4 linked regions of the Homo sapiens genome follow. The protein of the gene in region 1 interacts with the protein of each later gene in a biochemical or structural test. Each region holds a gene or a part of one and is shown in the gene's direction. Other genes may lie near its edges.

What was found.
Region 2: the proteins of UBE2W (region 1) and ZNRF1 form a complex in vitro, tested with the Homo sapiens proteins (one study listed by BioGRID).
Region 3: the proteins of UBE2W (region 1) and TRIM7 form a complex in vitro, tested with the Homo sapiens proteins (one study listed by BioGRID).
Region 4: the proteins of UBE2W (region 1) and RNF111 form a complex in vitro, tested with the Homo sapiens proteins (one study listed by BioGRID).

What each region holds. Positions count from the first base shown.
Region 1 is NC_000008.11:73,875,851-73,882,812, reverse strand, and holds the start of UBE2W (ubiquitin-conjugating enzyme E2 W), read left to right. Parts: upstream 1-3,950; 5' UTR 3,951-3,990; coding exon 3,991-4,005; intron 4,006-6,962. UniProt on the Homo sapiens protein: Accepts ubiquitin from the E1 complex and catalyzes its covalent attachment to other proteins.
Region 2 is NC_000016.10:74,994,989-75,002,030, forward strand, and holds the start of ZNRF1 (E3 ubiquitin-protein ligase ZNRF1), read left to right. Parts: upstream 1-4,035; 5' UTR 4,036-4,683; coding exon 4,684-5,107; intron 5,108-7,042. UniProt on the Homo sapiens protein: E3 ubiquitin-protein ligase that plays a role in different processes including cell differentiation, receptor recycling or regulation of inflammation. Mediates the ubiquitination of AKT1 and GLUL, thereby playing a role in neuron cells differentiation.
Region 3 is NC_000005.10:181,195,173-181,202,198, reverse strand, and holds part of TRIM7 (E3 ubiquitin-protein ligase TRIM7), read left to right. Parts: intron 1-1,182; exon of another isoform or gene 1,183-2,045; coding exon of another isoform or gene 2,046-2,117; coding exon 2,118-2,348; intron 2,349-3,081; coding exon 3,082-3,104; intron 3,105-3,393; coding exon 3,394-3,509; intron 3,510-3,980; coding exon 3,981-4,016; intron 4,017-5,317; exon of another isoform or gene 5,318-6,521; coding exon 6,522-7,026. UniProt on the Homo sapiens protein: E3 ubiquitin-protein ligase that have both tumor-promoting and tumor-suppressing activities and functions in several biological processes including innate immunity, regulation of ferroptosis as well as cell proliferation and migration.
Region 4 is NC_000015.10:59,074,658-59,081,683, forward strand, and holds part of RNF111 (E3 ubiquitin-protein ligase Arkadia), read left to right. Parts: intron 1-1,296; coding exon 1,297-1,558; intron 1,559-6,278; coding exon 6,279-6,627; intron 6,628-7,026. UniProt on the Homo sapiens protein: E3 ubiquitin-protein ligase. Required for mesoderm patterning during embryonic development. Acts as an enhancer of the transcriptional responses of the SMAD2/SMAD3 effectors, which are activated downstream of BMP.

The sequences.
Region 1 (6,962 bases):
TAATATATTTACAAAAGTGATTTTTAAACTCAAAATGGTATGTAATTCCCATTTCATTTTATCTTAGACTTTTTAACATGGTATTTTAGACAAATCATGCACAATTTTGATTCTCTTTAATAGATGCATGGAATTTGAAATTTGGAAGAAACCATAAAGATTATGCAGTCTGACTTGCGCATTTTATTGATAAGGAAAGAAACCCAGAAAGATTAGAAGCCTTACCTAAGCTTGTTAATCACAGAGCTAAGATAAGAATACAAGCCTTGGATTCTTACTTTGGTACCTTTTCCAAAATCCAGTAACAAACTGTTGGTGACTGAACTGTCTCCATTTCTCTGCTGAGATCAGCCCCTAGGAGACTAAGAACAAACTACTGGGTGGAGGCATAGACTCAAGCAAGGACTCATCAATTCTGCCTTTTCATGCTTCAACAAACAAATGTTCACAGGACTGCTTCTGACTTCCCAGTTTAATAAATCACTAGAACAAAAGCATTCATAAATCACATTACATTATCCATTATAGCACTTACCCAGTAGTCCCTTTGTGGGTCCTTTAATGTTACTATTTAGTTTCCCATATTTCCTTTTCTTTACTAGCAGAAAGTCCAGATGCTAATTTAGACCTGTCTCAGGCTCTCTCTTTACCTTGGAAGGGAAGATCTCAGGCACATACACAGCTTGGGTATGTCCAGATTTTTTTTTTCTTCCAGGGAAGTGGAGATGCAGGTAGTTTGTGAGATGAGGGAGAATCTCCTCGTAAGCTGATGGACATTTCTAATAGCTGTGGAAATGAAAAAGTGAACATCATTATCAAATCTAACAAAAATAATAATTCCTTAATATCCTCTAATATCTACTCTATATTTAATTTTCTCCAGGTGTCTCAAAAATATCTCTTTTACAGTTTGTTTGAATCTAGATCCAAACAATGTTAACATATGCATTTGTTCAATGTACTCTTACGTGGCCAAGCATGGCCTGTAATCCCTGTAATGCCAGCACTTTGGAAGGCCAAGGCAGGTGGATCACTTGAGGCCAGGAGTTCGAGACCAGCCTGGGCAACATGATGAAACCCCGTCTCTACTAAAAATACAAAAAATTAGCCAGGTGTGGTGGCACATGCCTGTAGTCCCAGCTACTAGGGAGGCTGAGGCAGGAGAATCACCTGAGCCCGGCAGGCTGCAGTTGCAGTGGGCCAAGATCGCGCCACCGCACTCTAGCCTGGGTGACAGACTGAGACTCCGTCTCAAAAAAAATATATATATATATATAAATATATATATAAATATATAATATATATATTTTATATTATATATAAATATATATATTTATAATATATATATAAATATATATAAAACTCATATGATGCTATTAAGAAGATCCAGTAAGGATATGGGAAACTTTAACTTCATTATTGCCGAACTATTTTCCAAAGTGATTGCACTAGTGTCACTCCTATAGAGTTTATGAGAGCTCCACTTCCTCTCTCACTTTTGGTATTGTCAGATATTTTTTTTGAGACAACAGGGTCTTGCTCTGTCACCTAGACTGGAGTGCACTGGCATTATCCTGTCAGACATTTTAACTTTTGCCTATCTGATAGTAATGATAGTAAGCCTCGCTCTGTAGAAATATGAGCCTAGTCTTCAAACATGGCATAATAGTGTTTTAGATATTAACATTACATGCTCACTGGAGATAATTATATACCCCCCATACCATCTGTAAGTCACTGTTTTGGCTCCTATGTCAGGATCTTTTTATTAAATATTAACAAAAGAATGGCCGGGCGCAGTGGCTCACACCTGTAATCCCAGCACTTTGGGAGGCTGAGGCGGGTGGATCACGAGGTCAGGACTTCGAGACCAGCCTGGCCAACATGGTGAAACCCCCATCTCTACAAAATATACAAAAAAATTACAAAAAATTAGCAGAGCGTGGCGGTGTGCGCCTGTAATCCCACCTACTCGAATCACTTGAACCTGGGAGGCAGAAGTTGCAGTGAGCCAAGATCGCGCCATTGCACTCCAGCCTGGGTGAGACTGAGACTCCGTCTCAAAGAAAAAGAAAAAAAAAAGAAGACAGGTTATTATGTGCTATTTAGTATTACCTAGAAAGGATATGACTGGCATTGACTTTTCCCTCCTGAGAAGATACTTCTAACATATATGAAACCCAAGGGACCAGATATTGGATCCACTGTGATGAGTGTCAGAATTCTTGTAACCTCTTTTTTCCTTATTAGTATCTGTCATGCCAGGTTGTTGGCTCTGATGATGTCATAATGCTTTGTTTGTAGGGTCATCCGATGCTACTGTTTCCACAGGAACAATCAGCTTTTAGGCAAAGTGAACCTTGGACGGTAAAAGCTGATCTTCTGAGGTCATAGGAATAAATATATCTCAAAGAAAATACACTGGAAACTTCTTCTTTAAGTTTTCCTCTTTCATTGGAATATGTGGGTTTCCTCACTGTTGTAATGTTGATGACACAACAAGGCTAACACCGGATATGCTTCTGGCTGATTCCGGTTTACCAAGAGCATCCAAACATCCCTCAAGGACACAGTCATTTTGCACAACAAAGGGAAACTCCGCTCATTTCTGGCATTAAGGTGGACATCTGAGAAAGGGGAGGGTATACCACCATAACTTCTCTAGTGATGAATAGTGTTTAATATTATACCATAGACTAACTGGCGTATTTTAAAGATCTTTTTCCTTTTTGAACACATTTCAGATTAGAGAAGTTCCAGAGAACGTAATCTATTTTAAGAGTGTGAAAGAGTGATATTCCACATTGCTTTTATATCTTAAAGAAATTTCTAAAAAGAAAGCCGAGTCAATAAAATGACAGATTTTAAGCCTTCATTCTGGTAACATAAAAGCCTTCTACTCATTGTGTCTGCCACCTTAATTTTTAAAGATAGAGCATGAGGTGTAAGCTTTTGGCTTCCATTTTCCTCTTATAAACCAATGACATCTTCAGTTCCAGAATAGCTTTTTAAAAACGTGACTTCTGATAAATGTTGGCAGAACTGGTGCATTCCTAAAATAAATTATGTATGCTCAGCTTTCCCTACCCAAGTTCATCCCTAAATGACCACAAAACTGCCCACCACGAACTATGCTTAAGAGAAGTCTGGACATAATGGTATAAGTGTATATAACACGACATTGGTATATTTAAAAAAAAATTCATGCCTAGGGTCAATTCTGATAATCAAATTTAGACTGCTGCAACAACCGTAACTATTGTTGATATATGCGCAGTTTAAAAGTGAAGGGCGGGGGTAAGGGGCAGAAACTGCACACAACAAACTTCCAAATTTTGTCTCCCTTTTCAGGCAAGTTTCAGCTCCACAAATCTAAATACCCTCGCCTTTAAAATATCAGTGTCGTTCTGCTCTTAAATCCTCATCCCGTTGTACAAGGAAACCTATGTCTCTCTTCCCCAAATTAAGAATACGAGAAGCCTTCCAGGTCTGCAAATACCAGAAAGCAGCTGCGCATGAAGTTTTATGGGGCCCCAAGGCTCTGAGAGTGGGCTTGGAGGTATGGAAAACACATCCCAAGGGAAAAATCTGTGAACCGCACAACTGTGGTTGGAAACGAAATAGGAAAAAAACTGCGCGGAACCGGACGTCATCAGCATTTCGCGGTACACACGAAGAAAACAACCGTAGTCGGGTCAAAACTGGAGCCGTGTCTCCTCAGTAACGAGAGTAAATGGGGGCCCGACGCGTGAGCGGCCAGCCGGACTGAGACAGAAAGTACTCAGAGCGCCATTTACCGCGCCCTCGCCCCGCCCCGTAGCCCCTCCTCCCGTCCGCCCTGCGCGCCAGCCAATCCCCTCGCTCCATCCCCTTCCCATCGCAGACCCCGCCCCCGCGCCCGGGATGTTGAGCCCCCGCGGCGTGACGCGAGCACGGCAGCTCCTCCCCCTGCGTCTCTGGCCTCGCCGGTCTTGGGGGGATGGTTCCATCATGGCGTCAATGCAGGTGAGAGGAGTTTGCTGCATCTGGGCGGGCCAGGGAGCCGCCGAGAGAGTGCCAGCGTTCGGGCGGGGGTGGCGTCCGCGATTCGGGGACACCCGGGCGGGTTCGGGATCGGTCCGGGTGGCCTGTTTTCCCTCAGCTCAGGGCGTCGGGGGAGGGGTAAGAGGCGGCGAGAGGCGTTGTGGGGGGTGCGGTATCCGTCGGTCGAAGCGGACACCAGCCGGCCGGGAAGTTGGGTGATAAAGGAGGGTTGGGGAAGAAAGGGCAAAGTCTGGCGTTGGCGGTCTCAGAATCGGCTCCCCGCACACACACACGGGCGCTGCCAGTCTGCTGCCCGCCAGCCCCAGGGTTGCCTTTACCCCCGCTGTCCCTGGCCCGACGGAAACAGCTGCGCCCGCGGTTGTTGCCGGGGCAGGGGCGGCGGGGGGCTGAGTGTGCGGGAGCCGAGAATGCGTCTCCGGAGAAGGCGGCTGGCTGCGGACGGCGCTTAGCGGCCTCTGCTCCGGCCTCCCACGCCGGGCCCCCCAGACTGCTCGGCCCCGTCCCTCTCTTCTTCCCTTTGACTCTTAATCCTGTGCCCGTGGGTATCTTCTATTTCCATCAGCCTCGGTATTCTCGCGGACATTCCTCCAGCAGTCCACTGTCTCCTTCCTCTCGAAGCTGCCCCGTGTCCACCGCCTGATGGGCGATCTCCCGAGAGCCGAGTCCTCAGCCCCCTTAAACCTCTCGGGATAGCTTGCCTTCTATTTTGTTTCCCACTGCAAGGCCCCACCCTTGCGGTCGCGATAAGGCTATACATCTCTTTGCCCTTATTCCCAGACCTTTAGTGGAACCTTAGTTTGGTAGGAGGCGTTTGTTAACCTGTGCCATATCCCCCCGACTTAGCAAGGCGTGGTTTTCTGGCTTTCCAACTTAATTTACTCCTTTTTCCCGAATCTAGGGAGTTGTGGGTTTTTTTGTTTTTTGTTTCCAGGCAAAGATGGCAACCACAATTGTAGTTGTGCAGGGATTGAGTGCGTTATCTGTAGCCTGCATTTAATTCACAGGTGAAGACTAGCGGTATCAAAGGCATTGGAAGAGAAAGTAGAACGCTCAATAGGAGTGTCAGCTGAGTACCCTTTAGCGTTTTCATAATATCCCCTTGGGTAAAGAGACCACATTTTCTTAGAAGTGTTTTTTGCTTTTGTTTCTGGAAGAAGCAAGTCTCTGTTCCTCCTCCATTTTTTTTTCTTTACTCTGCTAAAAGTGTTTTTCTTCCCTTTTCTGCATCTTCTTCCTCTTTTGTACAAATATAGCTTTGCTTCACATTTACTCCTGTGCTTTTATGTTATTCCCCTTTCAACCTGTTTTCCTTACAATATTCTCTTTACCTTGCTTCTCCCTCTGGACTTGCCTGCAGAACAGAAAAGTTTTATGTAACATTTCTAGTTGAAGAGATATCACGAATGGTGCAGGGAAAAAACAGGAACAATTTCAGGAAACATTATACTTTACACTAGTCTCCCCAGAGACGTTGGAGAAGTTTCGTCATTTGAGGCCAAAAAAGGAACAGTGGAATGCTAGTTGAACAGTAGATGCAATAGGCTACATTACCACTTAAAGATTTTTATCTGTGTTAAGATTAAAACATTTTTTATGACAAGTTTAAGATTATTATCTGTATTAAGATTAAAACATTATTTGAGGCTAAACATTAAGATTAAAATCCACAACACTTGTATTTGACAAGAGAACGTAGTGTGTCATCTCGTTAGATTTAGTATCTGGAAAAGGCAGATTTGTTTGTAAGAGAGAGGTTGGTAATCTTGAACTTGAACTTTACATGGTGTCTTTTTTCTTTTTTGAGATGGAGTTTCGCTCTTGTTGCCCAGGCTGGAGTGCAATGGGGCGATCTTGGCTCACCGCAGCCTCCACCTCCCGAGTTCAAGCGATTCTCCCACCTCAGCCTCCTGAGTAGCTGGGATTACAGGCATGAACCACCACGCCCAGCTAATTTTGTATTTCAGTAGAGACGGGGTTTCTTCATGTTGGTCAGGCTGGTCTTGAACTCCCGAACTCAGGTGATCCGCCTGCCTTGGCCTCCCAAAGTGCTGGGATTACAGGTGTGAGCCACCGTGCCTGGCCTACATGATGTCTTAAGAATTGGAAACAAATACTTGATTGACAGTGCAATAGTGCATTTTTCTGTGCCCTAAGTATTACTATCTCAGACTCTTACCACCCTTTTAAGTTTTTCCTTCACCTTGTTCCATCGAAATCTTATCACTCTCTATTCTTCTGTGTTTTCTGGTTAGAGGAATGGAAAACGGATGCTTCCTATATTTATTGAAAAGTCTTTCCCTTTTTATTTGTATTTTAAAATATCTAGTGCAGATTTGCTGGTAGTATCTTTAAGAATATTTTAATATATATGTCAAGCTTTTTGAAAGACAACCCTACTTTCTGTGTGGTTATTCTGTATCTTTGTTATACAGAATTTATATCCTGACTATCTTAATGGCAACATTTGGCTCTTTTAAGACAACTAGATTATACATAAATCTTCAATAAAATTATCAACTTTGTTTATTCACTGAGCCAGTTATCTTTTGGGGGACCTCTATGTGTCAGACACTTATCTAGTTGCTGTGGTTATAGCAATGAACAAAAGCAGACAAGATTTCTGCCCTCATGGATTTAATAATAAATAGTCTCATAAGAAGAGACAGATAAGAACAGCATATTTAAGTTAATTGTGTTTTGTTCTTGTTTTTTGTGTTGAGATGGAGTCTCGCTGTGTTGCTCAGGCTGGAGTGCAGTGATGCCATCTTGGCTCACTGCAACCTCCGCTCCCAGGGTTCTAGCAATTCTCCTACTCAGTCTCCTGAGTAGCTGGGATTACAGGCGCTGGCCACCACGCCCAGGTAATTTTTTTTGTGTTTTTAGTGGAGACTGGGTTTTGCCATGTTGGCCAGGCTGGT
Region 2 (7,042 bases), on another chromosome or scaffold:
GTTTGAACCCGGAGGCAGAGGTTGCAGTGAGCTGAGATCATACCACTGCACTCCAGCCTGGGTGACAGAGTGAGACTCTGTCTCTAAATAAGTAAATGCATAAAACAGAAAGACACCACTTTGTAACCACACAATTAAAAAATAATAAATAACAAATAAATACATAACAGAAAGAGGCTAGGTGCAGTGGCTCAAGCCTGTAATCCCAGCCACTCTGGGAGGCTGAGGCAGGTGGATCATCTGAGGTCAGGAGTTCAAGACCAGCCTGGCCAACATGGTGAAACCCCGTCTCTACTAAAAATACAAAAATTAGCTGGTTATGATGCCACGTGCCTGTTATCCGAGCTACTAGGGAGGCTGAGGCAGGAGAATCACTTGAACCCATGAGGTAGAGGTTGCAGTGAGCCAAGTTCATGCCAATGCACTCCAGCCTGGGCGACAGAGCAAGACTTGTCTCAAAAAATAATTAGTGGCCAGGCACAGTGGCTCATGCCTGTAATCCCAGCACTTTGGGAGGCCAAGGCGGATGAATCACGAGGTCAGGAATTTGATACAAGCCTGACCAAACATGGTGAAACCCCATCTCTACTAAAAATACAAAAATTAGCCGGGTGTGGTGGCGCGCGCCTGTAATCCCAACTACTCAGGAGGCTGAGGCTGGAGAATCGCTTGAACCCGGGAGGCGGAGGTTGCAGTGAAGATTGCACCACTGCACTCCAGCCTGGGTGAGAACAGATCAAGACACCGTCTTAAAAAAAAAAAAAATTTAGCGTGGCATGGTGGCGCATGCCTGTAATCCCAGCTACTTGGGAGGCTGAGGCAGAAGAATCACTTGAACCTGGGAGGTGGAGGTAGGGGTTGCAGTGAGCCGAGATCATGCCACTGTGCCCCAGCTTGGGTAACAGAGCAAGACTCCGTCTCAAAAAAAAAAAAAAGGAAAAAAAGAAAAAATAGAAAGAGACCTATTATTAGTCATTTTCCATTCTCCCCTCCCCCCAGGCCATGGCAACCACTAATCAATCTGTCTCAATGGATTTGCCTATTCTGGACATTTCATATAAGTGAAATCATACAATACATAGTCTTTTATGGCTGGCTTCTTTTAGTTAATATGCTTTTACAAGATTCATCCATGTTGTAATATGAATCAGTACTTTATTCCTTTTCATGGCTGAATAATATTTCATTGTATAGATACACCACATTTGGTTTACCTCTTCATCAGTTGATGAGCATTTGGGTTGTTTCCACTTTTTAGCTCTTTTGAATAATGCTGCTATGAACATTTACGTACACATTTTTCTGCAGACATATGTTTTGCTTTCTCTTGGAACTCTACCTAGGTAGGAGCAGAATTGCTGGGTCATGTAACTCCACATTTAATCTTTTTGAGGAACTGTCAGGCTGTTTTCCAAAGCAGCTGCACCATTTTACATTTCCACCAGCAAGGTACAAGGGTTCCAATTTCTCCACCTCTCATCAATACTTACTATTGCCCTTCTCTTTGATCATAGCCATTCAAGTGGGTGGGAAGTGTTTCTTCTGATGTTCTATGAGAACAGGGACTCCATCTGTCTGGTTCTGGTTCAGTACTGTATCCCAGAACCTACTACAGTGCCTGGAATTTATTACATACTAAATATTGTGTTAAATACACTAAAAAACTGTTCAGTGAATGGATAAATCAAAAGCTGTTTGGATAGTTACAATGGGTATCATGTATTTATCTCTCTAATAGGGATCTTCCACGGGGTCTAATACCTTTTTTTTTTTTAGTATAGTACTGAACCACTCTTCTGATACCATAGTCTTTCTTCTAGGAGGAAATGGGATTAAATTTAAGCTTTCTTGTTTTTCCTCTTTAGGTATACACATACTCATATAGGCACCTACAGATAATTTATTAGATGTTGGCACATTTTGTTTCTTCCTATTTTTACTTCTCTTGCAAAAATTCTTACTTCTACAGGGCTGTTTGCTCACCTCCAGGTATTTCATGCTTGCAAATAGGTTTCCTCCTGTTTCCAGGCTGGCCACAATGGAACAATCAATACCTGTGACGGGCTAGCCTTGCTCTTTTTGGTTTTCTTTTAATATTTCTGAACATCCTGTTTTGGTCCCCCAGTTTAGAAGTATCTGGGGTCATTTAATAGGTGGAAGTCAGCTAAGCCAGGGACTGTGTGATACTCACAGCCAGCACCTAGCACTTGATAAATAGTTGTTCAGCAGTCACAGTGGCTCATGATGTAATCCCAGCACTTTGTGAAGCCGAAGTGGGAGGACTGCTTGAGGCCAGGAGTACCGGCCTGGACAACATGGGGAAACTCCCATCTCTACTATATATGTATGTATATACACATATATATATATCATATGTATATTTTGAGACAGTCTCGTTCTGTTGCCCAGTCTGGAGTGCAGTGACGCGATCTCAGCCCATTGCAACCTCTGTCTCGCGGGTTCAAGCCATTCTCCTGCCTCAGCTACCCAAGTAGCTGGGATCACAGGCGTGAGCTACCACACCTGGCTAATTTATTTATTTTTTATTTTCATTTTTTTTTAGTAGAAATGAGGTTTCACCATGTTGGTCAGGCTGGTTGCAAACTCCTAACCTCAGGTGATCCCCTGCCCCATCTCCCCCCACCCCCCCACCCCCAGCCTCCCACAGTGCTGGAATTACAAGCATGAGCCACCGTGCCCGGCCTGATTTTGAAATTTTTAACAGACTTTTACTCGGGAGGCTGAGGCAGAAGAATCACTTGAACCTGGAAGGCGGAGGTTGTCCAGCCTGGGAGGAGCAAGGCTCCGTCTCAAAAAAAAAAAAAAAGAAAAGAAAAAAAAGAAAAAGAAAAACAGGGCGGGCGCGGTGGCTCATGCCTGTAATCCTAACACTTTGGGAGGCCAAGGCAGGTGGATTACCTGAGGTCAGGAGTTCAAGACCAGCCTGGCCAATACGGTGAAACCCCGCCTCTACTAAAAATACAAAAAATTAGCCAGGTGCAGTGTGGCATGTGCCTGTAATCCCAGCTACTCGGGAGGCTGAGGCAGGAGAATCACTTGAATCCGGGAGGCGGAGGTTGCGGTGAGCCGAGGTTACGCCACACCACTCCAGCCTGGGTGACAGGGCGAGATTACGTCTCAAAAACAAAAACAAAACAAAACAAAAAAAACAGTTGTTCAATAAATGAATGTGAATATAGGAGAAAGACGGCTTGAGGTAGCAAAGGAACACTCCCTTGCAAATGATTCAGGCTTGGTCAACAATACACCTATTGAGTACCCACCGTGTCCTTGGCCCGTGGTGAGGGCCGAAACACAGCACATGGTAAACAAAACAGGGCTCCAGCCTTGGACAGAAGGTTTCTATAATCACTTCTAGCTGCGTTGTTCTATTTCCATACCCATATCTATTCACTTTTTATGGTACATCTATTGATTCTGAAAATTACATTTTAGCTAAGGAATCTACTCATTTGCTTAAGCCCAAAATAGGAAGTTATGATCTAGTGTCAGCAAAACGCCGGATTCACAAGTGTCCCCATGGCGCTGTTTACCCCCAAATAACTAAACCCCGCCAAATGTTGAGATTCCGGACGTGAGGGGTGCTTGGATGGGGAACCCCCGAAAGAATGGACATCACGTCCACCAGAGGGTGCTGTGGGGGCAAATTTGTGCCAGGAGGGGAGCTCGACCGGTGACCCTCAGAGCCAGGTAGGCGTAAGGAGTAAATCTCCTTCTTCCCGGTGTTTCCTTCCCACCCCCTCGAACCATTGCTGCCCCTCCCCCATACTTGGTTCCCCCTGAATAATTTGCCACTTTCGGGGACTTAAGAAGTGTTTGCTTTTGAAAGACATCTGGTTTCTGTGGCTAACGCCCAGTGGTCAGGCCGCCCAGGTCACAGGCCGGCCGGGGGCGGGCGGTGGGTGGGGACTGCTGGGGCGTCAGCGGCCCAGGCGCCGCAGGGACCGCGAAAGGGTTAACCCGGCGGGGGGAGGGGGAGGGGGCGCGGGCCGCGCCTGCGCTCTGCCGCCCTCCATTGTCTCCACGGCGGCGAGGAGCGCCGGCGAGCGCAGCCCGGGACCGAGCGGGGCGGCGCGGCTGGCGGGGCCGGCGGCGGCTGAAGCGAGAGCGCGACGCGACGCGACCGCGGCTTCCCGAGCTGCGCCTGGCCGCCCAGCGCCGCGGCCCGCCCGAGGCCTGGAGGGGTCCGGGCCGCCGTCCATGGTCGCGGCGTCCTGAGGCGGGGGACGCGCCCGGCGCCCCCGGCCCTCCTCCGCCTCCTCCCGCGGGGCGGGCGGCCTCCTCCGGCGCCTCCCCGCGCCCGCCCGCCGCTCGCCGCCGCCTCCCTCCCTCCTTCCCTGCGGCTCCCCCGGCTTTCGGAGCCCGGGGGCGGCCTGTGGCGCGCGGAGCCCGCGCCGGACTGCGCCTCTTTGGACCTTGAGGGGAAACATGCGTTTGCCTTGGATCGTTTGAAATTCTGAGTTTGGGATCCCCGCCCGCCCGCCTGCCTCTTCCGCCCCGCGGGTTTTTTCCTTTTTTCCTTTTGCTTTTTTTCCTTTTCTCCCTCCGGGTCTCCTTTTTGACTCCCTCCCCCTTTATGCTCGCCCAGCCCTCCCCCTGCTGCTGAGAAGTGGGGGAGGGTCTCGGCCTCCAGGTTCCCGCCCCACCGGGGCCCGGGCGAGCATGGGGGGCAAGCAGAGCACGGCGGCCCGCTCCCGGGGCCCCTTCCCGGGGGTCTCCACCGATGACAGCGCCGTGCCGCCGCCGGGAGGGGCGCCCCATTTCGGGCACTACCGGACGGGCGGCGGGGCCATGGGGCTGCGCAGCCGCTCGGTCAGCTCGGTGGCAGGCATGGGCATGGACCCCAGCACGGCCGGGGGGGTGCCCTTTGGCCTCTACACCCCCGCCTCCCGGGGCACCGGCGACTCCGAGAGGGCGCCCGGCGGCGGAGGGTCTGCGTCCGACTCCACCTATGCCCATGGCAATGGTTACCAGGAGACGGGCGGCGGTCACCATAGAGACGGGATGCTGTACCTGGGCTCCCGAGCCTCGCTGGCGGATGCTCTACCTCTGCACATCGCACCCAGGTGGTTCAGCTCGCATAGTGGTGAGTCCGCGGGTGGTGGAGGCCTCGGAGGGAGGGCGCGCCGGGGCGCCCCAAGCCTTCGCGTGCGTGCCAAGGTTTGGGAATGTAGTGCACGACCGGGATCTGTCTGCATTCCCTTTGGTTCCCGATGCCAAGGGATAAATGGGATACCTACCGTCTGGAAACTAGGCTTTCTGCGAGGCTGCGGAGCCTGGCGATTTAGGGACTCACGGCGTGTGTTCACTTGTGGAAGGGCAGAGCGAAGCCTACCTATTGGAGTTCCATTTATTGGCATCACCCTCCTCAGAGAAGAGGTCGTGTCTGGCTGAGAGCAAGTCAGCCTGGGTACTTCCATTCTGCCACTGCAGCACTGTGCCTGCCTCACCGGTAACGGAGAGATGGAGCCAGTTGGAGCAAGCAGTGTCTCCTAAACAGAGTGTGTGAAAATGAAATAAAATCAGGGGCAAGTGATGCCTGGATTAGGGCTCTCACTCTTGCTGGGAGAGAGAGGTGCCCAGTTTTGCCACCCTGCTGGAGATCTGTTTGAAATGTTTAAAATGGAGCAGCCGGCAGGCGGCTGGCATAGACAGGTGTGGCTGCTGTACGGAGGGCCCAGCCGGCGAGTCTCGCGGGGGCTTTGCAGGACCCGGGCTGTGGTCACCCGTACTGCATGCAGCAGGCTTGGCTCCGCGACTCTCGCCTCCCTCCATCTTTTTTTCTTCTGCTCCATGCTAAGTGCTTGGTCTTCCCGTGAATCTGCATCTTTTTGTAACAGGGAGCCTGTCACGGTGGGGCATTATTGCCTGGCTGTTGGCACATGACTGGGGAAAAGGAGGATTCAGAGAATCTGGATGAATTCATTTTATGAACTTCTGGTGACAGGCCAGCAAAAGGTTGGAGGGGGATTTCCCAGGCTCCTAGCGGGAGGGCAAAAAAGGCCTGGCAGGAGGAAAACAGGTCTGTCTGCTAGGTCAGGCATCTAGAAAATTGGCCAAAAGGGATGTGGGGGCCGCTATTTGCTAATTGGCAAGTTGAGTGATGAAGTTACATCTTAAGATTCTTTTGGGTGAGTTGGGAAAATTTAGATAGTGTAGGGGAAAGATTGCTCCTGCCTTTAGGGTACTTTATGGAGGGTAATATCTGTTGGATCACTCTTTTAACTACTGTGAAATAGGGTTGACTTTTGGGGTATCTCTTTCCCCCCCCCTGCAAATAGCCTGGGGTTTGTTTTCATTTGGTTTGGTTTTTTGTCAATTCTGTAAACTTTAATTTGTGAAATAGTGTTGGGGGAGAAACGATTAGTGACTAATTTAGGGTAACACTTAGAAGTAGCTTGTGAATTGTTAGGATGATATTTTAATCTCTGACAGACCTCCGGATATCATTGGAGCTTTTCTGACCTCATGGAACTCTGCCCTGAGTGAGAAGCAGGACATGATTGCCTTTGGCTCTTTCAGGCATTTGATCAAAATTAGGCATTTTGAAATTAATAATTTTTCCTATGGAATTTAGTCCAGAGAGTTAGCCATATTTTTGAGATGACTAGTTTGGTGTTTAAAAGAACTGTAATGAGCATCTGGTTTTGAACTTAAAAGTACTGTAAGAAGTTTCTCTAAAATCACAGAATTTTTTGTGTTGAAAAACATATGAGATATGTAGGGAGGAAGAAAGGGAGTGCTTTTTTTGCTAAAATTTCTTAAGCCTCTTACTAAAAATTTATTTATTATGCTACTACCAGGTTCCATGCTACAGTTATGAGCTTGTAGTTGGATTCCAGAATTTCACTCTTAAGCTGTGAAACCTTATTTTTTTTCATCCGATCATGGTGAGGGTAGGGAGAGCCACTGAACTGTGGGGACAGGAAGGTTGGAGCATATTAATCCTTTAGGGAAGGGTGTCAAAAGTGTGTATGGGAGGCTGCTATTAATATTGTAGGTAATCCATTCCTTACTGTGT
Region 3 (7,026 bases), on another chromosome or scaffold:
TCAAAAAAAAAAAAAAAAAAGAATGAAAGGATCTACTAGGACCTGTCAAGGCAGGGAATTGAAGGAAGGTGAACTAGAGGACCCTCCCATCCTCAATGTCAGGAGGGGTGGAGGAGGAGCCTGGAGTTCAGACACCCTAGGGTCCTTTCCAGACCCTCAACTATATCTGTTATGCCTGCACCCAGTGTGCATCCCAGACCTTCCTACCTCATCACTCACTTTCCTCCATGAGGAAGAGCTCACCCTCTAGACCTTCATCCCTCCTCCACTGGAGAAATGACTCCCAATGCAGCTCTTCCCCCACTGGTTGACATCCAGGAACCAGAGGGCCTTCCCTGGCACCGGCGGCAGCTTCACAGTCTCTGACCGGAGTCCCCAGGCCTTGCTTAACACCTTCCACCTCTGTCCTCTCCCAACATCCATCCATCCACCCCCACATTCGTTTTTGTTGTTGTTTTGTTTTGCTTTGCTTTTAGACAGAGTCTCACTTTGTCACAAAGGCTGGAGTCGTTCAAGCGATCCCCCCACTTCAGCCTCCTGAGTAGCTGGGACTACAGGTGTGCACTACTACACCCGGCTAATTTTTAATTTATTTTTTGTAGAGCTGGGGTTGGGGGTAGTCTCCTGTGTTGCCCAGGCTGGTCTGGAACTCGTGGGCTCAAGCAACCTTCTCCCCTGACTTTGCCCCCCTCAGCCTCCCAAAGTGCTGAGATGACAGGTGTGAGCTCTACCTGTTCTTTGCAGCAATAAAATACTTCTGGATTTATGACACTTGTCTCATTTACAATACCCTGCTTAATGAAACATCAGAGGTAGAGCCCAACTATTGCTGCAACACAAAAGGGAGAAGGAATGCTCTTATTTGAAAATGCTCCTACCCCAGGGGACATCTGGCAAAGTCTGGAGATACTATATTTTTGGTTGTCAACAATGGGATAGGGATGCTATTGGCATTTCGTGGTAGAGGCCAGAGGGGCGGCTAAATGTCCTACAAGGCACAGGGCAGCCCCCTACAACCAAGAAGTATCTGGCCCAAAATGTCAACTGTGTTAAGGTTGGGAAACCCTGGCTTAGAGTATTTTGGCAAATACTGTTTCACTTGTGCTACCTCCTTGTGAGGCAACTGGCCGAGAAGCCTGGCTTAACACTTCCTGGTGATGTGTCTGTCTTTTGTCTCCTCACCTGTAAGACTTGAAGGGAAGTGCACCCTCCCCACTGGGCTGCCGTCAGGGTTGAGGGAGTTAATATCCATAAGGCGCTCCAGGCTACTGCAGCCTGCCTGGAAGCTGAAGGAAAGGTGGGGGCATTGTAGGACACCTTGAACCCAGGTCTCCCAACTTCACAGGACTCCCTTCCTCCGCCCAGGAGTTTTAAGGAAGAGGAACTTCCTGGTGGGACATATTGAGTGCCAAACGTGTGTTCACATAAAAAATCAAGAGATCAGGGCATGAGTCTGCATCTGAAAACTCGAGTAAAAAATCCGGTGTATGCTGTTAATGGAAAGAACAGAATATGACACTTGCATGCCGCATATTCTCACTTCGTTCCTTGGGGGTGTGCTGCTACCTCTGGTCACTGGCATCGGACTTTTCTTCCTTCTTTCTACTTTCCTACATCTCCCAAGTTTTGTATTTTGAGCATGTGTTAGCATTATAACTGCTAAACAGGAAAGATGGCCTTTAAAAAGAAAGTGAAGTGTAAAAGTTTGAGGGTGATGAAATAAATGTGCTTGAGGAAGAAAAAGCAATCTCAGTTTAATCCTATGGTTGCCCCAGGAGGCACTAATTTATCCCTTCTGCTTTTCAAGTGAGGAAGCTGCAGCTTGGCGTAGTTCTGGGGGGAGTATGAAGCTGCCTTGGTTTAGGTGATGGAGCACAGGTCCACAGACATGTGTGGGTGCATCTGTGGCAGGGGAGAAAAGAGCATGTGTCCAGACTACAGCTTGTTCAGAGCTGGGACACTGACAATAGAGCACGCACTGCGTGCGTAGGTGGGTGTGTCTCCGATCCTCCAGCAGTGACAGGGACGAAGCCTTGCCCTGTGGGATGACTCAGGCCACTGGCCAAATGTTATGTCTCCATGTTCAAGTCCCTCTCCAACTTCTCCTCCTGGGACAGAAACAGATGGCAGCGGAGCAGGAGAAGGTGGGGGCAGAGTTCCAGGCACTGAGGGCTTTCCTGGTGGAGCAGGAGGGTCGGCTGCTAGGCCGCCTGGAGGAACTGTCCCGGGAGGTGGCACAGAAGCAGAATGAGAACCTGGCCCAGCTCGGGGTTGAGATCACCCAGCTGTCCAAGCTCAGCAGCCAGATCCAGGAGACAGCTCAAAAGCCTGACCTTGACTTTCTCCAGGTAAGTCTGGCTCAGCCAGGGGCTCGAGTCATTTATCCTAAGGCATCAGGACCAGCAGCTAGAGAACAGTGTCAGTCCTGGGGGGTCTAGGAGAATCACATGATCTGGAGCTGAAGGGGACTGGAGAGAAGTGCCCTGATTTTCCTGGGGTTGGAGGTCTAGAGAGATGTGAAAACTTTCTTGACTATGAGCCACAATAATATATATCGTATTTCAGAATCACAAGCTTGAGACAAAAGTCTCAGAAAATAATACTCACCTTTGCTACACGTATGCACTTTGATGTTTTCTATTCTATTTCGCTAAAAAAAAAGTTATAAACAACTAGATAAACTTCACAATCCATAGATGGGTTAAGAACAGTCATTATGGGGCTGAGTGAGCAGTAGGTGCATAAGGGCTGTGACCTCCCTCAGGTGGTTTCCAGGACACACGCAGCACTGGGTCCCATGGGATAGCTCCAGTGATGATTCTGTAACTAAGAAAGCAGCAAAGATAGAAAGAAAGCACGTGAAGAGTTGTGGCAAAGGGTGAGAGGTCCACTGCGTGGGTGAGACACCCTGCAGCCAGCAGCCACTGGAAGCTGCTGCCCCTGAGGCCCACGCAGGCAGTGAGGCGTGGCACACTTGCTTATGCTTACATCTGGGAGGCACAGCAAGGGGCAAGCTTTGTTTCTCAGAGGTGAATGGAGGTTACCTGATGCTGATTTGGTTTCCTCTATCTTTCCTTCCAGGAATTCAAAAGCACGCTGAGCAGGTGAGTGACCTCACAGCTCCTGGGGCCTCTCTAAGTTGCTTCTTCCCTTTTCACTGAGCCTTGTCTTTATTCCCTGTCCCCTGACCTCTCACCTCCTGATCCCCCGACTTGCTTGCCTGGGGACCTTCCGAGACAAACGCCCACCTGCCTGGCCATGGGTTTTTCTGCATGAGGTCTGGCTCTCCCTTTTCTACCTCTTTCTGCCAAGAGGACCTCGCCATCCTAATTGTCACAGCCTGTGGGAGCAAAATGGTGCACACAGGCCCTTCTCAGAGCCCTTGTCCTGCAGGTGTAGCAATGTGCCTGGCCCCAAGCCAACCACAGTCTCTTCTGAGATGAAGAATAAAGTCTGGAATGTTTCTCTCAAGACCTTTGTCTTAAAAGGGATGCTGAAGAAGTTCAAAGGTAGGGGCCTGGGCGCCAAGCTGGGCCACATAGTGCGGTGGTGGTGGAGGGTTCCTGGTAGCTCAGGGGTCCCTGGGTGTGCTTTCCAGAAGCTGTGTGTGAAAATAGGAGCTGGCTGTGCCATGGCCAGATTGGTGTAGGGGCTGTGGTGGCAAATCTAGTCAGGCCCCCGCAGGGCATGCCGCTTCTCATGGGCACAGATGGGGTAGAGGGGTACTGCTGGGGGACTGGGGTTAGGAAGAGAGCTGTGCAGGGGAGCTCAGCTCAGAGCCACTTGGGTAGAGCTAGAATGCTTGGGTATGGGCCCCCTGCCCCCCGCTCCCCATGCTTGGCCCTGTGCCTGCACGTTCACTCTTGGCCTTAGGAGTCTCTGGGGAATGAATGAGTCAGTTGGGATATAAAGAGCTGGTGACCTTGCCATATAATCTCCCGTGTCGCTCATGCACGCCTTGCTTTGTTTCTCCTCCTCAGAGGACCTTCGGGGAGAGCTGGAGAAAGAGGAGAAAGGTAGGGATGGTGCTGTGATGGCGAGTATGGACTGTCTGCCACACAGAGATCCTACTCCCTGCTCGTGACCATCTCAGGGTTTTGCATATGGTCGGTTCCTTCAGCCCACCCACCTCAGCAACCCTGTTCCTCTGTCCCCTCCCCCACACCACCCCCTCCCCATCCTGGGAGCTCTGACACCCTCAGATGTTGGCCCAAATGCTGCAGGTTGGTTAGGAGCAGGAATGCCCTGTACCTCGAGATACTCAGACTGGGAAAGGCTTCTCGGCCACCTGGGTGAGCCTCTACCCGGTCCCCACTCCAAGATGGATGGAAACCTCTCCTGGGAATGGGGTGTATACAGGGGACCAGGAAAGCAAGGGGAAGCTAAAGACTGGAAGGAATATCGTTTTTACTCTTGCAAAGCTCTGGAATGTGTGGCATCCAACACCCAGAGGAGGGGAGGGGAGGGCACATATTCCTGATGCTGATGTCTGAGCTAAGTCAGAGTGTGTCTGGGTGCCACCTAAAACACCTGAGTGAGACCAGGCCCTCCTCTGCTCAGAGCCCTGCCACAGCCCCTCTGACTTGGTAAAGGTCAGAGTCCCCATGGAGGTCTCAAGGGCCCACGGGCTCTAGCCTCACTGCACACCCCTTCTACTCCACGCAGCTACACATCCTCCCTGCTGTTCCTTCAGTGTACCAAGCACACACCCATCCCGGGGCCTTTGCACTGCCAGGCTCCCCCACCCCAGGCCCCTACCTGGAGCATGCTTTCCCCAGCCAGTCCTGTGGCCTGCTTCTTTGCCTTCTTTATATCTGTCTGCTCGATGCCCCTTTTCAGTGAGGGTCTTCCCTGGCCACTCTGGTTGAAGTTACAGCCTGCTCTTCTGGTCCCTCTCATCTTCTGTTTATAATCTATCCTCAATCCTCTCCCTGTGGGAAGGAAGCTGCAGGCAGGCAGGACTACTCTGATACTCTGTGGTACCCCCAGGGCCTCAATCGTAGTAGTGCTCACAGTAAGTGTACATATTTTAACTTTTTTTTTTTTTTTTGGAGACAAGGTATCGCTTTGTTGCCCAGGGTGGAGTGCAGTGGAACTGCAGCCTCCACCCCGCAAGCTCAAGCGATCCTCTCTCCTGGGCGTCCTCGAGTAGCTGGGACTACAGGAGCACACTACCATGCCTGGCTAAATTTTCTATGTTTTGTGGAGACGGATGTCTCGCTATATTGCCCAGGCTGGTCTCCAACACCTGGGCTCAAGCTGTCTTCCCACCTCTGCTTCCCAAAGTGCTAGGATTACAAGCATGAGCCTCTACACCTGGCCTTAACTTTTTATTATGAAAAATTTCAAACATACTCAAAAGTAGAGAGAAGAGTGTAAAGAATGTTACATACCCATCTCTCACCGTCCGCAGTGATCAATTAGTGGCCACAGTTTTCATAGACACTGCTATCCACTTCCTGTGGGATTATTTTGTTTTCTGAGACAGGGTCTTACTCTGGAGTGAGATCATGGAGTACAGTGGCCTGATCTCTGCTCACTGCAACCTCTGCCTCCTGGGTTCAAGCGATTCTCATGCCTCAGCCTCCCAAACAGCTGGAATTACAGGCACAGGACACCATGCCGGGCTAATTTTTGTATTTTTAGTAGAGAAAATACAAAACAAGTTTTCCGCCATGTTGCCCAAGCTGGTCCCAAACTTCTGACCTCATGTGACCCATTGGCCTTGGCCTCCCAAAGTGCTGGTATCGCAGCTGTGCACCATCTCACCCGGCCTCCACTGTATTATTGTTATTATTATTTTTATTTTTGAGACAGAGTCTTGCTCTGTCGCCCAGGCTGGAGTGCAGTGGCGTGATCTCAGCTCACTGCAATCTCCACCTCCCGGGTTCATGCCATTCTCCTGCCTCAGCCTCCCGAGTAGCTGGGACTACAGGCGCCCGCCACCACGCCCGGCTAATTTATTTTATTTTTTTATTTTTAGTAGAGACGGGGTTTCACCATGTTAGCCAGGATGTTCTTGATTTCCCGACCTCGTGATCCACACACCTTGGCCTCCCAAAGTGCTGGAATTACTGGCGTGAGCCACTGCGCCTGGCCTACTGTATTATTTTAAAGCATCAGAGACAACATATCATTGCCATAAATACCTCAGTGTGTTATCTCTAAAGAAACAGACTTTGTAAAACATAACCACAAAGCAGTCCTCACACCTGGACAGATTAATGATTCTTTCCAATGTCTAGCATTCAAATATCCCCATCTGTTGAATTGGGGTTCAAACCAGGCCCACACATTGCATTTGTTTGATTTCAGTAAGTACTTGTTGAGTGGTCGGGGCGGGGGGAAGCAAAATCTCTGGGAGGCAGAGCGTGGGGGTTGGTTGGGCCTTGGCGCTGGGTGCTGGGGGGATTCTAGAGGGAAAGGCAGGCAGGTTGCAAAGCAAGGTCGGGCGCGGCCCTGCAAAGACTGTGCCAGGGGCCTGGCTGCGTGGGGACATTTCTCCCTGTCTCTGTCTGCAGTGGAGCTCACCTTGGATCCCGACACGGCCAACCCGCGCCTCATCCTCTCTCTGGATCTTAAGGGCGTGCGCCTCGGCGAGCGGGCCCAGGACCTGCCCAACCACCCCTGCCGCTTCGACACCAACACCCGCGTCCTGGCGTCCTGCGGCTTCTCCTCGGGCCGGCATCACTGGGAGGTGGAGGTGGGCTCTAAGGACGGCTGGGCCTTTGGCGTGGCCCGCGAGAGCGTGCGCCGAAAGGGCCTGACGCCCTTCACTCCCGAGGAGGGCGTCTGGGCCCTGCAGCTCAACGGCGGCCAGTACTGGGCCGTGACCAGCCCCGAGCGGTCGCCCCTCAGCTGCGGGCACCTGTCGCGCGTGCGGGTGGCCCTGGACCTGGAGGTGGGAGCCGTGTCCTTCTACGCTGTGGAGGACATGCGCCACCTCTACACCTTCCGCGTCAACTTCCAGGAGCGCGTGTTCCCGCTTTTCTCTGTTTGCTCCACGGGCACCTACTTGCGAATCTG
Region 4 (7,026 bases), on another chromosome or scaffold:
CTAAAACTTTCTTTAGATCAGCAATAAGGGTGTTTCAGTTTCTTATCATTTGTGTGTTCACTGGAGTGCTTTCAGTTTCTTTCAAGGATTTTTCCTTTGCATTCATGACTTGGCTAACTGGTGCAAGAGGCCTAGCTTTTGGCCTCTCTGGGCTTTTGACATGCCTTCCTCACTAAGCTTAATCATTTCTCGGTTTTGGTTTAAAATGAGAGATGTGCAAATCTTCCTTTCACTTCAATACCAGAGGCCATTAATTGGCCTAATTTCAATGTTGTTGTGTCTCAGGGAATAGGGAGGCCCAAAGAGAGGAGAGCAGGGTAATGGGGAAACATCTGGTCAGGACACACATGTTTATCTGTTAAATTTGTTGTCTTATATGGGCACAGTTCTTGGTGCCTAAAGCAATTATAATAGTAACATCAATGACTACTCATCAAATATCACCATAACAGATAAAATAATAATGAGAAAAATGTAAATATTAAGAGAATTACCAAAATGTGACACAGACACAGAGTTTCCACATGCTGTTGGAAAAATAACTCTGATAGACTTGCTTGACACAGTGTCGCCACAAACCTTCAATTTATTAAAAATAAAACAAAAAACCCCGAACATCTGCAAAGCACTAAATGTGCCTATAAAATGCAATAAATATGCCTATAAAAGGAAGCAGTGCTTTAACTTTTTTTATTCTTATGTTTTTGAACAAGTGAAAGCTTTGAGTGGCAAAGGTAATTCATGATTTAGTCTGAAAAATCTTATGTCCATTGTTATTTTGAATAATGTAGATTTGTTTATTAGCACTTTAATTGAATTCTTGCTTTATACAGTTTGGAACTTGGGGCAGACAAGATTTTTCCTAGAACCTTAATATTTTCAGTAGTGTGATAGTATGTTTTCTCAAGGAGTCCTAAAGTACTAGTCACAATGTTGGGATAAAGGAGAATATAGAAGTATGATTTTTAAAGTTTCTAAGATGTATTTGTTATAAGACAAAAAGATTTTAATATATTAAACTTTTGTTCATCTTGTGATAAAATCTTATGCTTGATTTTTAAAAATTGGTTTAACTGTAAAACCACTACAGTTTTCACAATCCAGGATACACTTGTTATATTCAAGATAACCAAGTATTTTGTTGGTGCTCACTGGTTCTTCATACTAAGAATCTTCCTGGTTTCAAACTAATTTAAAGATTATGTTTTTTTGGTTATATTAGGAATACTTTTATAATATAACATGAAATATTTGACCAAACTTTAGAAAGATAAAATATACTTCCTTTTTATCTAGCAGGCATTGCCAGTGGACCTGAGCAACAGTGGTATCAGAAGTCATGGAAGTGGCAGTTTTCATGGAGCATCTGCATTTGACCCCTGCTGCCCTGTTTCTTCCTCCCGAGCTGCAATCTTTGGCCATCAGGCCGCTGCTGCTGCCCCAAGTCAACCTTTATCATCAATAGATGGCTATGGATCAAGCATGGTTGCGCAGCCCCAGCCCCAGCCCCCTCCACAGCCCTCTCTCTCATCATGTCGACATTACATGCCACCCCCTTGTAAGTATATACTTAGTGGACACAAAATCTAGAGTCATGTCAATGAAGCATTTTGTACTTCCTTATGAAATAACCTTTAATCCCAGTTCTTAAATTTTTAGTATTTACTTGGCTTAAGAGTAGGGTATATTTTTTCCCATGTTAGTATTATGTAATTGAGGTGGATTGAATGGAAGTTTTAAGGAATTTAGATTTGTTCTTTAGTATAGCTGAAGAAATGTGAAAGTTGAGTAGTATTTCTAGGCACAGTAAAGTAAATTTTTAAGAATTCTCAAGCAGTTAGCTGAGACATAACAGCAAGCTTTGGGAGTTGTAAAAGGATTTTTATATTCATTTGATGCAGGCAATTAAAATATAACCATGGTTGGGCATGATGGCTCACTCCTGTAATCCCAGCACTTTGGGAGGCCAAGGCAGGAGGATGGCTTGAGGCCAGGAGTTTGAGACCAGCCTAGGCAACATAGTGAGACCCCGTTTCTATAAAAATAAAATAGAACCAGCCATGCCTTTTCTAAAGAAATTGAAATTCGTTAGATATCACAAGAAATGATAAATACTCTAAGGCTATGTAACATATTTACTATTTTGTTAGATCATAAGCTAATAATGAAATGAAAGCTTAATAAACACTTGGCTGATAAACACCAAAAATTCATGCTGGAAATGAACCAGGAAGTCAGCAAGGAAATTTGTGTTTTGTTTTGATTACATGGCAAGTGGTAATTTTCACTTACATATCTTCTTGGATTTTTTCTTCTACTCCAGTCATTTAAAAAAATCTGCATCGTGCAGACGCAGCTGGAATCAACCCAGAATCTGTACAGTGAAACTGGTGATATATTATTTACCTTCTCAGTAATGCAACTTAAAATTTAAAGTATAAATTGGAAAACATTTAGCAAGTTTTTACAAAGCATTGACCAATGGGCCAATTCTTTGTATGAGCACCAGTGTGATGCATGGCCTATTTTGTAATACTTGATGGTATTCATTTTTGATTGATCATCTTTTATTTGAAATTCAATATGCTTAATTTTCTGCCCCTCCCCTTTAAAAATAATATACTGAAGCAGTTTATGAGTAAGTTCATTCCTTTCAAAATGTCCTAATAAATACATGTTTTAGATTCATTTGTTATATTCTAAAACATTCAGACTGTGCAGTCATATAAAATGAGAATTTAAAAGCTTCCTCGCACAGCTTACTAATCTTAATATATCAGAGGTAGTAACTGTTCTATAAAAACTTTTAGAAATTTTCTTTGTACACATAGATAGGTATATGTCTTACCTTTTAAAAATGGGAAATCAAACATATTCTACTTCTTGTTTTTTGTTTTTAAATTTAACAGTATATTTTGATTTTTGCATATTAGCACATAAAAATCTAGCTCATTGGTTTTTAATACCCCCATAATATCCATTGTATATTAAATCAGTCTTCTGTTGATGGACATTAAAGTTGTTTATGGTTGAGTTTATGTATAGTTTAACTTCCTAGAAATGTGATTGCTATGTCAGAGGGCTAAACTTTCAGATAAATACTGTTAAGTTTTCTCTCCAAGGGGCTGCATCAATTTACACACCTCATTAGGAGTGTGTTAATGAGAATGAAGGTAGGAAATTTAAATTGTATTATTTTCTGTTAGAGACATTTTGATAACTCTGTTTTGGGCTTCTTTTCCTGAAGGAGTGTGTGTATTCTCTCCCCAACTTGCCCGTGCTTTTAAAAAACATTTCCCGTATGCTTTAGTTCACGTGTGAAACATGTGGTTCTTAAACCTTTTTTCATCCAGAATGAACTGGGGAAGACAATATGGCATAGTAGAGCACTAGCTTTAGAATTGGATAGATTCGAGTTGACCTCCCAGCTCTGACTAATTAGCTTGGTGACTTTGGATAAGTTATTTAATCTCTCTGTCCTTACATTCTTTGCACTTGTAAAATGGGAATAATTCCTATTGGCTATAAATTGTGATACTTGGATCCAGATGAATAGTTTGCTGTTTCATAAGTACATTTATATGTATAACAACAATACTTGTGGAGTAAGAATATGTCTCTCTCTGCTTTTGAAAGGTTTGTGGTCTTGATGAAGTGATAAAACAACTGTACTTGAAATGCTATTATTTAAAAGTTTTACTATCTTATTAATAAGATGTATTGAGAAGATATGTAAGGCCTGGCTTGGTAGTATGAGCATGTAGTTCCTGCTCTTCAGGAGGCTGAGGCATGGGGATTGCTTGAGCTCAGGAGTTCAAGGTTGTAGTGTGCTGTTATCACACCTGTGAACAATCCTTGTACTCCTGCCTGGACAACATAGTGAGAACCTGTCTCTAAAAAAAAAAAAAAAAAAAAAAAGACCAGGCACAGTGGCTCACGCCTGTAATCCCAGCACTTTCGGGAGGCCGAGGCGGGTGGATCACCTGAGGTCAGGAGTTCAAGACCAGCCTGGCCAACATGGCGAAACCCTGTCTCTACTAAAAATTCAAAAACTAGCCGGGTGTGGTGGCAGGTGCCTGTAATCGCAGCTACTCGGGAGGCTGAGGCAGGAGAATTGCTTGAACCTGGGAGATGGAGATTGCAGTGAGCTGAGATCACACCACTGCACTCCAGCCTGGGCGATAGAGCGAGTCTCCCTCTCAAAAGAAGAAAAAAAAAAAAAAAAGAGAGGTATAGGTAAGGCTACTTACGATTAATCATAAAGCAAATGGTCTACACTGTAAAGCTATGGGAATGCAGTGAGTAAATGTTGGAATAAAGCATAGTATTACATCTGCAAGTGATATGTTGAACGTCTAGGAAACAATATCAAGAACTTTTTTTAACTGTTGGGAACACAAATAGAGGAAGGGAAAGGGTTTTTGGGAATGTGGAATATGTCACTCTTAAAATGGTCAGCAACCTGTTTTGTTTAAACAGTGAATTAAAGTGATGTCTAAAGAGTAGTTAAATAAATGGACTCATTCTGAAACAAAACTTCTTGCTTTGTAATATTTGTGAATGTTGTATAATGATTACACAAATATAAAACTTTGCAACTAGAAAAAATGCTGTGAATTTGAGAAAGGATAGTTAACAATCATAAAACATAGTGGATTCATTTTTTATGATTAAGAGCTAGCTACTGAGCTTTGTGCCTTCTTGAAGAGTAAAGCATTGATTTGAAAACAGAACTTTTAGAAAATTGGTTTAAAAATTTGTCTTGCAACTTTTAAAAATTAGATTTGTTGAAAGTTTCCTTTAAGTACATGCTAACAAGGCATACTTTGAAAATATAGTTGAGTTATTGTTACCTAACTTCTGCCCTTGCTGAATGAATCAAAAGCATTAAAAATTGAAAACTTCTGTAATGAAACTAGAGAATGGCTGTTGGTCTATATCAGACTTCCAAGAACATCTTCCAATAAAATGAAATTTGTATTGAAATCTAAGACAAACTTTTTTTTTTTTTTTACATGTCAAGTAGATGCACATCTCTAAGAGTAAGGAAGATGTGTATTCCTCAGAGAGATTTTTCAGCAGTCACTTTGAAACATAAAGATGTAGAATGAAGAAATGGTAGGAGCCATCTTATTAAGGACTTTACGTCCATATTTGATGGGAAACAAATAGGTCTCCTTCACCTTAATGTAGCACAGGAATAATGACATGGGGTAGGGAGAGAGAGAGACAGTTTGGAAAAATGTTTACACCCTATTATGACAGAGCTTCCATATATGCAAATAATACTTACAAGTCAATAAGAAAAAGGTGAGTAATACAATAGGCTAAGCATGTAAATAGATAATTCTGAGAACACATACAAGCGGTCAAGAAATAAAAGATTTTTCTCAGATTGGCATTTATTTTAAAAATTTAGTGGTAATGTGGGGGTAATCAGGCCTTCTTGTGTGCTCCTTTTTTTTTTTTTTTTTTTTTTTTGAGGTGGAGTCTCACTCTGTCGCCCAGGCTGGGGTGCAGTGGCATGATCTCAGCTCACTGCATCCTCCACCTCCCAGGTTCAAGCGATTCTCCTGCCTCAGCCTCCCTAGTAGCTGGGATTACAGGTGTGCATCACCATGCCTGGATAATTTTTGTATTTTTAGTGGAGACGGGGCTTCGCCATGTTGGCCAGGCTGGTCTCGAACTCCTGGCTTCAGGTGACTCTGCCCACCTTGGCCTCCTAAAGTGCTGGGATTACAGGTGTGAGCCACGGTGCCTGGCCCTTCCTGTGTACTCTTGATGGAAATATTAATTATGGCAACCTTTTGGAAAGGGTATTTTTATTAACTGGCATCTAAATTTATTTTTTTCTTTCTGTCCCACAACTACTTACAGGAATTTATGCTACAGAAATGATCTCTATATATGTGTGTATACATGTGTGTAAATGAAAGAGTGAGTGCAGGAGTGAGCATATACACAGATATTTATCATAGCATTTGGGTTTCTTTTTTATCAGTGGGGATTTTGTCAGTACATTTTGGTGTGTTCATATAATAGAATGTTGTGAAGCTGTGAGTGAAGTTAAACTATAATATATATATTGACATAAGATATCCAAGATTATTGTAAGAAGGGAGCAAGTTGCTTGAGCAGTTGCTTGAATACTTTACTTGATAAAGTATTCATAAAAATAAAATACTAATATGTTTAAAAGTACACTAGGAATGTATAATAGCAATATATGTTCAACTGCATGGTGCCTATGTAACATACTCAAAATATTTTTCTTGCAGATGCCTCTTTGACAAGGCCACTTCATCATCAAGCTTCTGCCTGCCCGCATTCTCATGGAAACCCCCCTCCTCAGACTCAGCCTCCGCCTCAAGTGGATTATGTTATTCCTCATCCTGTACATGCTTTCCATTCTCAAATATCTTCTCATGCAACATCTCATCCTGTGGCACCCCCACCACCAACTCACTTAGCCAGTACAGCTGCACCAATCCCTCAGCATCTTCCTCCTACACACCAGCCAATTTCGCACCATATTCCAGCCACAGCACCTCCAGCACAGAGACTGCATCCTCATGAAGTGATGCAGAGGATGGAAGTTCAAAGGAGGAGGATGATGCAGCATCCAACGTATGTTTTACGTTTTTAAAAAGAAAGTCAAGTTTGCTTTTTCTTCTACTTCCATTGGTCTTTACAACTCTGAAATCCAACTAGGCATGGTGGCATGCACTTGTAGTCACAGCTCCTTGGGAGGCTGAGACAGGAGGATTGCTTGAGCCCAGGAGTTTGAGTCCATCTGGGCAACACAGTGAAATACTGTTTTTTGTTGTTGTTGTTTTCTTTTTTTAAAAAAAGAACAAAGAACAGCAACAACAACAAAAAAAACCATGAAGTCTTTAGAAATAATGTAACTTGTAACTATAAGCTGGGTGAGGCTCATTCCCGTAATCCCCAGTTGCTCAGGAGGCTAAGGCAGGAGGATAATTTGAGCCCAGGAGTTCAAAGCTGAGCTATGACTGTGCCACTGCA